3 linked regions of the Homo sapiens genome follow. The protein of the gene in region 1 interacts with the protein of each later gene in a pairwise test. Each region holds a gene or a part of one and is shown in the gene's direction. Other genes may lie near its edges.

Region 1 (3,655 bases):
AATTGCTTGAACCCGGGAGACGGAGGTTGCAGTGAGCTGAGATCATGCCATTGTACTCTAGCCTGGGTAACGGAGCAAGACTCAGTCTCAAAATATATGTATATATAGAGACTGAGTAAATAATAACAACAAAATAAATAATATATATATTATAAATATACATAAATATATATATTTATGTTGATTTTGTTGTTGTTGTTGTTGCCAGAAAAGGTCTAGGTACTTTAAAATATATATTTTTAGCAACTGAACGTCTTAAGGAAAAAAAGGAACCTCCACCTAAATGTCATACCTTATATAAAAATTAACTTGGCCGGGTGCAGTGGCTCACGCCTGTAATCCCAGCACTTTGGGAGGCCAAGGCGGGTGGATCACTAGGTCAGGAGATCAAGACCATTCTGGCTAACACGGTCAAACCCCTTCTCTACTAAAAATAAAAAAAAAAATTAGGCGAGTTGGCGGGCACCTGTAGTCCCAGCTACTCAGGAGGCTGAGGCAGGAGAATGATGTGAACGCGGGAGGCAGAGCTTGCAGTGAGCTGAGATTGCGCCACTGCACACCAGCCTGGGCGACAGAGCAAGACTCCATCTCAAAAAAAAAAAAAAATTAACGTGATCATGGACTTAAACATAAAAAAAAAACTGTAAGCCTTTTAGAACTAAAACATAACCAGAATCTAGGGCTGGGTGAAGATTTATTTCTTTATTTATTTTTGAGACGAAGTCTCATTCTTGTCCCCCAGGCTGGAGTGCAATGGTGCAATCTCGGCTTAATGCAACCTCCGCCTCCCAGGTTCAAGTGATTCTCCTGCCTCAGCCTCCCGAGTAGCTGGGATTATAGGCGCCTGCCACCATGCCTGGCTAATTTTTGTACTTTTAGTAGACGGGGTTTCACCATGTTGGCCAGGCTGGTCTCGAACTCCTGTTCTCAGGTGATCTGCCCAACTTGGCCTCCCAAAGTTCTGGGATTACAGGCGTGAGCCACCAGGCCCGGCCTGGGTGAAGATTTATTTATTTAACATTCCTGAATTAGCAGAACTGTAGAGAAGGAGAATAGCTTAGAGATGAGGGATGGGGGAGGAAGTGGTGAGGCTATAAATATAGGTGTGACATGGGGTGGTTGGTGGTGATAGAACAGCTTTGTATCTTGAGTGTGGTGGTGTTTACATGAATCTACATGTGATAAAATTACATAGAACTATACATAAGCACAAATGAATGCCTTTAAAACTGGTGAAATCTGAATAAGCTCTGTGGATTGTACCAATATCAATTTACTGGTTTTGTTATTTTATTGTATTTATGAAAGACATTACTATTGGGGGAGACTGGGTGAAAAGTACATGCGACCTTCCTGTATGTATTTTTGCAACCTTCTGTGAACATTAATTATTTAAAAATTAAAATTTTTAAAAAGTATTTTTATGAGCAGCTTCTTGGCAACAGATTCTGATCTGATCCTGCCAATATTGTGGCGTGCCCTCAGGTGGGCCTCTTTTCCTCAGTGGACTTCAGTGTCTTTATCTGTAAATCTCATTCTGGACCAAATTGCTGAGGTCTTTTTTTTTTTTAATATGGAGTTTCGCTTTTGTCGCCCAGGCTGGAGTGCAATGGCGTGATCTCGACTCACTGCAACCCCAGGTTCAAGTGATTCTCCTGCCTCAGCCTCTTGAGTAGCTGGGATTACAGGCACGCGCCACCATGCCTGGCTAATTTTGTATTTTTCGTAGAGACGGGGTTTCACCATGTTGGTCAGGCTAGGTGACCTCAGGTGATCCACCCGCCTTGGCCTCCCAACATGCTGGGATTACAGGCATGAGCCACCGTGCCCAGCCCGAGGTTATTTTCACGTATAAAATTCCGTAATTTTTGGAGCCACTGCGCCTGGCCTAATAAATTATTAAATGGTTTTATGTAATGGATTGTCACATTATTTAGGAATTTTTGGTATTTACGTAAGAAAAACCCAGTTTGGCTTAAGGGACTGAGGGAAGTATTAATTAGTTCATGTAACTAGGAAGTCTAGGAGTGCATTTGGAATCACCTAGATCTAGGAACATCTACATTCTGCATCTTTCTGCTTGACATTATTTATTATTATTTTTCAAACATCTCCCCCACATAGGATTGATTATTTTTGACTCAATCTAGTGTCCCAAACATGGGGCTTTGCCTCTCCATTTCTCAGTTATTGGTTTCATTGTTGAGATAGATTAGGTGGCAAGATGGCTACTGGTAGCCCTGGACTCAGCATCTTCTTAGGTTAGCATTCCCAGATAGCTTCATCAGAAAAGTTCAAAGATATCCATGTCAGGTGTGTTAATGAAAATAAAAAAGCTGGGTGTGGAATCCCAGGACTTTGGGAGGCCAAGGCAGGTGGAACATTTGAGCTCAGGCATTCGAGACTAGCCTGCGCAACATGGGGAAACTCCATATTTACAAAAAAATTACCTGAACATGATGGCTCATGCCTACGGTCCCAGCTACTCAGAAGGCTGAGGTAGGAGGATCCTTGATCCTGGAAGGTCATGGCTGCAGTGAGCCTAGATAGCACGACTGTATGCCAGCACGGGTGATAGAGTAAGACCCTGTCTCAAAAAAAAAAAAAAGAAAAGAAAAAAGGCGGGGTGCGGTGGCTCACGCCTGTAATCCCAGCACTTTGGAAGGCCAAGGCGGGTGGATCACGAGGTCAAGAGATCAAGACCATCCTGGCTAACATGGTGAAACACCATCTCTACTAAAAATACAAAAAAAATTATCCTGGCGTGGTGGAGGGTTCCTGTAGTCCCAGCTACTTGGGAGGCTGAGGCAGGAGAATGGCATGAACCCGGGAGGCAGAGCTTGCAGTGAGCCGAGATTGCGCTACTGCACTCCAGCCTGGGCAACAGAGTGAGACTCCATCTCAAAAAAAAAAAAAAAGAAAAAGAAAAAGAAAAAAAATAGGCCAGGCATAGTGGCTCATGCCTGTAATTGTAGCACTTTGGGAGCCTGAGGTAGGAGGCTTGCCTGAGACTAGGAGTTTGGGACCAGCCTGGGCAACATGACAAAACCCTGTCTCTACAAAAAAATACAAAAATTAGCCAGGTGTGGTGGCGTGCGCCAGTGGTCCCAGCTACTTGTGAGACTGAGGCAGGAGGATCAATTGAAGCTGGAAGGTCCAGGCTGTAATGATCCGTGATCACGCCACTATACTCCAGCCTGGGAAACAGAGTGAGATCTTGTTTCAAAAAAAAAAAAAAAAAAAAACTTAGAAAAGTTCAAAGATGAACTCTGGCCTTCAGGTCATATTTTTCATTCCTCAAGTCCATACTGGGTGTAGGAGGATAGCAGACTTTTTTTTTTTTTTTTTTTGAGACGGAGTCTCTGTATCCCAGGCTAGAGTGCAGTCGTACGATCTCTGCGCACTGCAAGCTCCACCTCCCAGGTTCACGCCATTCTCCCGCCTCAGCCTCCCGAGTAGCTGGGACTACAGGCGCCCGCCACCATGCCTAGGCACGTGCCACCATGCCCGGCTAACTTGTGTATGTTTGGTAGAGACAGAGTATGTCTTGTGTATGTTTAGTAGAGACAGGGTTTAGTAGAGACAGGGTATGTCTTGTGTATGTTTAGTAGAGACAGGGTTTCACCATGTTGGTCAGGATAGTCTCAAACTCCTG
Region 2 (3,655 bases), on another chromosome or scaffold:
ATTAGCTATGTTTTAATACAAGAGGCCAGAATAATTATTCTAATTCTGTATTTTTTGAAAGCCCAATGAAAGTTGTTCTGTCAAGAAATATCACCAGAATATTCTCTATCTCATGGCTTAGTTTTTTTTTTTTTTAGTTACTGGTAATGAGTTTGTTCAGGCTAGTGTCTATATAAAGAGCACTAGACTAGGTCTAGATTCATGTGCTAGCTCTGCTTGTGGCTTTTTTTTTTTTTTTGAGACGGAGTTTTGCTCTTGTTGCCCAGGCTGGAGTGCAATGGTGCCATCTCGGCTTACTGCAACCTCTGCCTCCTGGGTTCAAGTGATTCTCCTGCCTCAGCCTCCCAAGTAGCTGGGATTACAGGCATGCGCCACCATGCCCAGCTAATTTTGTAATTTTTTTTAGTAGAGACAGGGTTTCACCGTGTAGGTCAGGCTGGTCTCGAACTCCTGACCTCAGATGATCTGCCTGCTTCAGCCACACAAAGTGCTGGGATTACAGGCGTGAGCCACTGTACCTGGCTGCTTGTGGCTTATTATAGGCAAATGACTGAGCCTGTGTGGGCATTTGTGCCTCATCTGTCAAATGAGGAGTTTGAACTCAGTAATCTCTAATATCCCTTCCAATCATAATAGGTTTATAATTAAAAGGAAATTTAACTTTGCTTGCAGAGCATTTCTAATATATGCAGTACCTCTTAAGTTCTTAGAAGTTGTATTCATTGGTCTATGTATTACTCATTATTAAAAAGAAGAACTGTTAATAGTTAAAGTCACATGGAAAATTAAAATATGACAACTGAAAAATAAATCTCATAAATTATTTAATAAAGTCTTTTGGTTGTGTGTGTATATTTTTTCCTAGTTTAAGTATAATTTTCAATTAAAACTATTAGAAAATATATAAAACTATCAAATAACTTGAGTTATTTTCAACATAAATTATGAATGGAGGAGTAATAGTAAACATACATGCAAAAATGTTTTTGTAGATAGCTATGTTAATTTTATTAGAATCATTTGGCCAAAATAAGAACATATTTATATTCTGCCTTTAATATCATTAAAATAATTTCAAATATTTTTCATATACCTACTATATACCAGAAACAGTGCTATGTGCTAGATTTTCAGTCTTTGGTGTTAAGGAGCTTATAGTCAAGTGAGGATAGATAAAATAAATAAGAAATTATAATTCACAGAAGTTTGCATTGCTTAAGATAGGGGATGCACCATGCAGAAAGGCTGCATAAAGGTCAAAGTAGATGAAGTACAAGAGATGAAGCTCAAGAGATGTAAATTGGAGAAGTAGAAAGGACCAGACCATAATGGCCCTACTAAACAGTGTTAAAGAGTTTATCCTTTTTCCTGAGGGTTATGGGAAGCCATGAAAGAATTTTAAGTGGTAAAAACATAACCAGATTTGTGCTTTAGGAAGACCTATATGTGGAGAATGGATTGGAAAAGAGTAAGACTGGTGGCAGGGAGACCACCTAGTAGATTTTTGCATTTATCTTGATGAGAGAAGAGGGTTATGTAACCTGAATGGGGGTTATGGTCATTGAAGCTGATTTGAGATGCTTAGGAGGTAGGAGCAACAGGAGTTGCTGATTATGTGCATATGAGGGGTAACGGAGATAAAGGGGTCAAGTAAGATAACCAAGTTTCCACCTTGGATGGTGGCAGCATTCACTGTGATAAGAAACAGAAAAGGAGCAAATTTAGAAGAAAAAGATGATAATTTCACTTTTGGATCTATTGAGTAACTCATCTCAATGGTACAGCCAAATGGAGCTGTCCAATGGGTAGATACATGAATTTGGACTTAAGAGAAAGATTTGATCTGGAGTTGTAGATTTGGAGATATTGGTACTTGTATGGTGATTGAAGTCATAAGACCATATGAGATCATCCAAGAAAAGTATATGTAGTAGAAAGAGAGGGTTTAGGACAGAACCCTAAAGCACAGCAATAATTAAGTAATGGCTAGAGGAAAAGAAATAGAGTAGGTAGAGAAAAAGGAGGAAAACCAGTGTGGGCAGGAATCCAAGGAAGGAGAGATCATTTATGAAGTAGGAGTGGGTCAACTGTGTCAGATTTTTCAAAAAAGTCAGGTAACATGAGAGCTGAAGAAACCACTGGATTGAACAACTGTGAGATCACTGGTGATCTTGGTGATGGTACTTTCACCGATATAACAAGGTTGCAATGAAGGTGAAGATAGAAGGGTATATTAGACTTACTGAAATAGAAAAGAGGGTTTTTTTAATAACAATCTTGGAAGGAGTTTACCTTTTAGAGACTGAGAATTTCAAATGCATAATGACTTACAAAGTAGTTTAGCCAGGAAGGACCCTGTAAGCCATTGGCTGCATACCAGTGTTTAATGGCATGGAGGTCAGAAACCTGCTATAAGGTATTCTAGGAGTTACGGAATAAACTCGATAACTTCTTGAATTGGCATCAAGCCTTCACTGAAGGTAAATGAAGGGAGTCTTAGAATTATTTAATGACTCTGAGCCAGAAAGCTGGCCTATAATTTTCATGGCCACCCTGACTCTTGTATGATAAATACACAAAGAAGCAGACAGCCTAGGCATTGCCTACAGACAGAATACTCATCACCAGAATACTCATCATCAGAATACACCAGAGGTATTGGTATGTGTTTTCTCTGCTTGTTGGAAGTCTGATAATATGATTTAAGAAACAAGGGTAAATTGCCACATTATTTTCTTCAGAAATATTTTGATAAAATATCAAAAATGTAGAAATATAACAGAGTTTTTGATGCAGGTATTTGCTATTCAAGTGTGAAATCAATTTAATTTTACATTTTTTAGTGATTAGCATGTCTTTTTCTAAAATTTCAAAAACAATATTAACTTTCTTTTTCTACAGCAGTCTTTCCCAAAGAAATTCCCCATGTCTCAGTCAGTGCCTCATATTTACATTCAAGTTAAAGAATTTATTTATGCCAGCCTTAAATTTTCAGAGTCACTACACCGGAGGTGAGTTTACTAATCACAAATGCATTTTTGTCATAACTTTTATGAAACATTAATACTTTATTTTTATGCCATAACTTTTTTTTCCTCAACTTTTATTTTAGATTCATGGGGTACATGTTTGTTATAGGGGCATATTGTGTAATGCTGAGATTTGGGGTATGCTTGAACGTGTCACCCAGGTAGCGAGCATAGTACCCAACAGGTAGTTTTTCAACCCCTGCCTCCCCTTCTTGTAGTCTCCAGTATCTGTTGTTTCCATTTTTACATCCATGTGTACCTAGTGTTTAGCTCCCACTTACAAGTGAAAACATGCAGTATTTGGTTTTCTGTTTCTGCATTAGTTTGCTTAGGATAATAGCCTCCAGCTGCATTCATGTTGCTGCAAAGGACATGATTTTGTTCTTTTTTATGGCTGTGTAGTATTCCATGGTGTTTATATACCACATTTTCTTTATCCAATCCAACATTGCTATCAATGGGGAGGTGCTACTGGAACTAGTAGTGGGTAGAGGCCAGGGGTGCTGCCATAGACACCTAGGTTGATTCTGTGTCTTTACTATTGTGAATAGTGCTGTAATGAACATATGGGTACATGTGTCTTTTTGGTAAAATGATTTATTTTCCTTTGAGTATATCCCCAATAA
Region 3 (3,655 bases), on another chromosome or scaffold:
GCCACTGCACTCCAGCCTGGGCACCATTGAGCACTGAGTGAATGAGACTCCGTCTGCAATCCCGGCACCTCGGGAGGCCGAGGCTGGCGGATCACTCGCGGCTAGGAGCTGGAGACCAGTCCGGCCAACACAGCGAAACCCCGTCCCCACCAAAAAAACACAAAAACCAGTCAGGCGTGGCGGCGCGCGCCTGCAATCGCAGGCACTCGGCAGGCTGAGGCAGGAGAATCAGGCAGGGAGGCTGCAGCGAGCCGAGATGGCAGCAGTACAGTCCAGCTTTGGCCCGGCATGAGAGGGAGACCGTGGAAAGGAGAGGGAGAGGGAGACGGGAGAGGGAGAGGGAGACGGGAGAGGGAGAGGGAGACGGGAGAGGGAGAGGGAGACGGGAGAGGGAGACGGGAGAGGGAGAGGGAGACGGGAGAGGGAGAGGGAGACGGGAGAGGGAGAGGGAGACGGGAGACGGGAGAGGGAGACGGGAGAGGGAGAGGGACTCTTTCACTTTCAATAGATCTCTTACTCATCCCTGATTTTGTAACATCATGCACTGGTCACCTGAAAAATAGTGCTCCACTGAGTTAAGCAGATCTTCCAAATGTTGATACATTTTATTCTATAATATCAAAAAACTACATTTCTTAGTATTGCCACTAACTCATTAATATAAAAAAACTACATTTCTTAATATCGCCACTGACTCATTAATATCAAAAAAACTACATTTTTTAATATTGCCACTGACTCATTAGAAAAGTCTTTAAGTACCAGGAAGCTGTCTAGAATTCTAATTTATACTTCAAATATAGATAAGGATGTAAATTGCAGCATTGCCTTCAAGGTGACCAATTCTTACTGACATAAATGTCCGTTAGTATGGAGAATGGTTGAATAAATCTAATACATCCATACAGATGAATTAAACAATTATTTTACCTTCCTGTATCTCTATGACATATTTTTAAGGAAAATAAAAAGCAAGTTAAAAACAACTTATAGGTGTGGCTACATTTAAACACAGTTGCCCTTACACAGAAACTTACCTGTGTATATGTAAAGAAGCCACAAAATGGAAACTGGGATTGTGCCCGCTCTACTGACAGTGGGGAACTCGACAGAGAGGGATGTTGACGGTGGAGGGGAGAGATGAGTAGGAATGGAGTCCTCATGTCTTCAGCTAATACTTAAATCTCCCACAACATGTATTTCTTGTGTAGTTTTTTTTTTCAAGTCTCGAACAAGAACATAATCACTTTTTTTCTCCGTATGCATCTTATTTAAACGGGTATTTTTTAAAGCCTTTCTCAAGTTTTAAGTTAGTGTCTAATTGTGTGCGTGCCAAAACTTCACCAGAGAGTTTATATCTGTTGGGAAGATTAAAGCATCTAAAACCTTTTCATTTTTGTCTTTAAACTTAGATACATATGATACTATTTTGCTTTAGAGGACATAAAGAGATGGTATCTGATTTCCCCCCTCACTTAATTTAGGTGGCTGAACTTATTTTACTCAAACTTTATTTTTTTTTTGAGACAGAGTCTTGCTCTTTCGCCCAGGCTGGACTGCAGTGGCACGATCTCGGCCCACTGCAAGCTCCGCCTCCCGGGTTCACGCTATTCTCCTGCCTCAGCCTCCCTAGTAGCTGGGACTACAGGTGCCCGCCACCATGCCCGGCTAATTTTTTGTATTTTTAGTAGAGATGAGGTTTCACCGTGTTAGCCACGATGGTCTCGATCTCCTGACCTCATGATCCGCCCGCCTCGGCCTCCCAAAGGGCTGGTATTACAGGCGTGAGCCACCGCGCCCGGCCATTTTACTTAAACTTTTCTAAGAAAATGTACCTTTGGAATAATTTCAAAGTTGGAAAATATCAACCAAAGACTAATTTTTTCACCCCCAAAATATGGAGAAACTAGGAGTCTTTGTTTTTAGAATACAAAAAGTTTATTTTGAGACTTTGAATTGAGACTATTAAATTCTAAAATAGATAACATTTGTTAAATTCTTGATTATTTGGATTTCCCCAATGTGGAATGGGGCTGGGCTGACATTTAATCATTGTGCTATTCTTAGGGGGAAATGGCTATAATAAGCAATTTAATCATAAATAGAATTATGGGAGGGAACTGTTGTCCGATCTCAATACAATGTAATAAAGTTAACTGCTTGGGACTACTATTTGATATACCAATTTGAATATTATTCTCATTTTTTTATTAAGTTAGGGAACATTCATTAGACAACCCTTAATTTATTTCTCGTTTGTTTTTTCCTTTTGTTGAGACAGAGTCTCACTCTGTCACCTGGGCTGGAGTGTAGTGGTGCACCTTCTCAGCTCACTGCAGCCTCAGCCTCCCAGGCTCAAGCGTTCCTCCCACCTCAATCTCCTGAGTAGCTGGGACTACAGATGTGTGCCACCACACCCAGCTAATTTTTGTATTTTAGTTAGAGACAGGGTCCTGCCATGTTGCCCAGGCTGGTCTCAAACTCCTGGGCTCAAGTGATCCTCTTGCCTCAGCCCCCAAAAGTGCTGGGATTACAGGCATGAGCCACTGTACTGGCCTCCTTCTTTTTGCTTTGATCTATTCTTAGAATTTATACTTATTTAAAGATATTCTCTAATTTATCTGTATACTAATTTAGGCAGGTCTTTACTCTTGTCCTTCATTTAGTCTAAATTAATAAGATCACATTGCGGTAAATGCAGATCTTTGCCAGAACAAGATTGGGCTATTAAAACTTAGCAAAATCATTATGGTGTTTGTAATGAAGCCATAGGAATAAATATTGTAAGTAGTCTGAGTTTTTTAATGAATAAAGAATGAAGTTTACGTTCAAATTATTGCAATGTTTCTTTTCTATAATATTAAATAAATTCTAGTATCTCTATCAACTGTGCTAGACGGGGTTATTTTATAATCTTGACTTTTTGTAGTCTAGTTAGGGGAACAAGACTAATACACATGAAACTGTTAAAGAATAGTTTGAAATCAGGTACTAAATTGTGAAGATGACAAGAAGGAGAATTGGAGTACATATAAAACTTGACAGGGAAGATATACTGGACAATGAATGTGAATTAGGTTTCTCATTTATTCAGTGTTTTCAGAGCATGTTCTTGTTCTCATTGATAACATTGGTGTTCTTTCCATCTTAGAGATAAAAAGATCAATCTACTCATTACAACTCAGTAAAAGCCAGTTCTGAGATTAAATTGCTAGAAACTTGAATATTGTTCTATTAATCCAAACATAAAGTTAATAGAGACCCAGATCAGGGTGGCAGCAACTGAAATGGGGTTGATATAAAAGCTGTTGAAGGAAAAATGAAATGGACCTGGTGATTAATAATACAGGAGATAGGCAGAGGAGGCAAAGATGACCACAGAGATGATGAGCCAGAGAAAAAGAGTGGAGAGGGATTGGTATTGCCAGAAGTTGGGAGAGGAGAAATTTTAGAGTAAAGTTAATTTTTCAACTTTTGGAATTTGGAGCCTCGGGGGAGGGAAGCTAGATGACCATCAATATAAAAACCCCAACATAAAAGCAGTAATCTGAAATACAGCCAAGACCCAAGACCTGAGCATCAACTTAGTGCCCTGCAGCCAGGAGGAAGAGGAATAACCGTGATGAAGAGAGTGTAGTGAAGGGGTACAACCAGG

The links.
Region 2: the proteins of GLE1 (region 1) and EXOC6 interact in binary tests that used the Homo sapiens proteins (3 or more experiments, as listed by UniProt).
Region 3: the proteins of GLE1 (region 1) and SPRED2 interact in binary tests that used the Homo sapiens proteins (3 or more experiments, as listed by UniProt).

The regions. Positions count from the first base shown.
Region 1 is NC_000009.12:128,511,115-128,514,769, forward strand, and holds part of GLE1 (mRNA export factor GLE1), read left to right. Parts: intron 1-3,655. UniProt on the Homo sapiens protein: Required for the export of mRNAs containing poly(A) tails from the nucleus into the cytoplasm. May be involved in the terminal step of the mRNA transport through the nuclear pore complex (NPC).
Region 2 is NC_000010.11:92,949,372-92,953,026, forward strand, and holds part of EXOC6 (exocyst complex component 6), read left to right. Parts: intron 1-2,901; coding exon 2,902-3,011; intron 3,012-3,655. UniProt on the Homo sapiens protein: Component of the exocyst complex involved in the docking of exocytic vesicles with fusion sites on the plasma membrane.
Region 3 is NC_000002.12:65,334,976-65,338,630, reverse strand, and holds part of SPRED2 (sprouty-related, EVH1 domain-containing protein 2), read left to right. Parts: intron 1-3,655. UniProt on the Homo sapiens protein: Negatively regulates Ras signaling pathways and downstream activation of MAP kinases. Recruits and translocates NF1 to the cell membrane, thereby enabling NF1-dependent hydrolysis of active GTP-bound Ras to inactive GDP-bound Ras.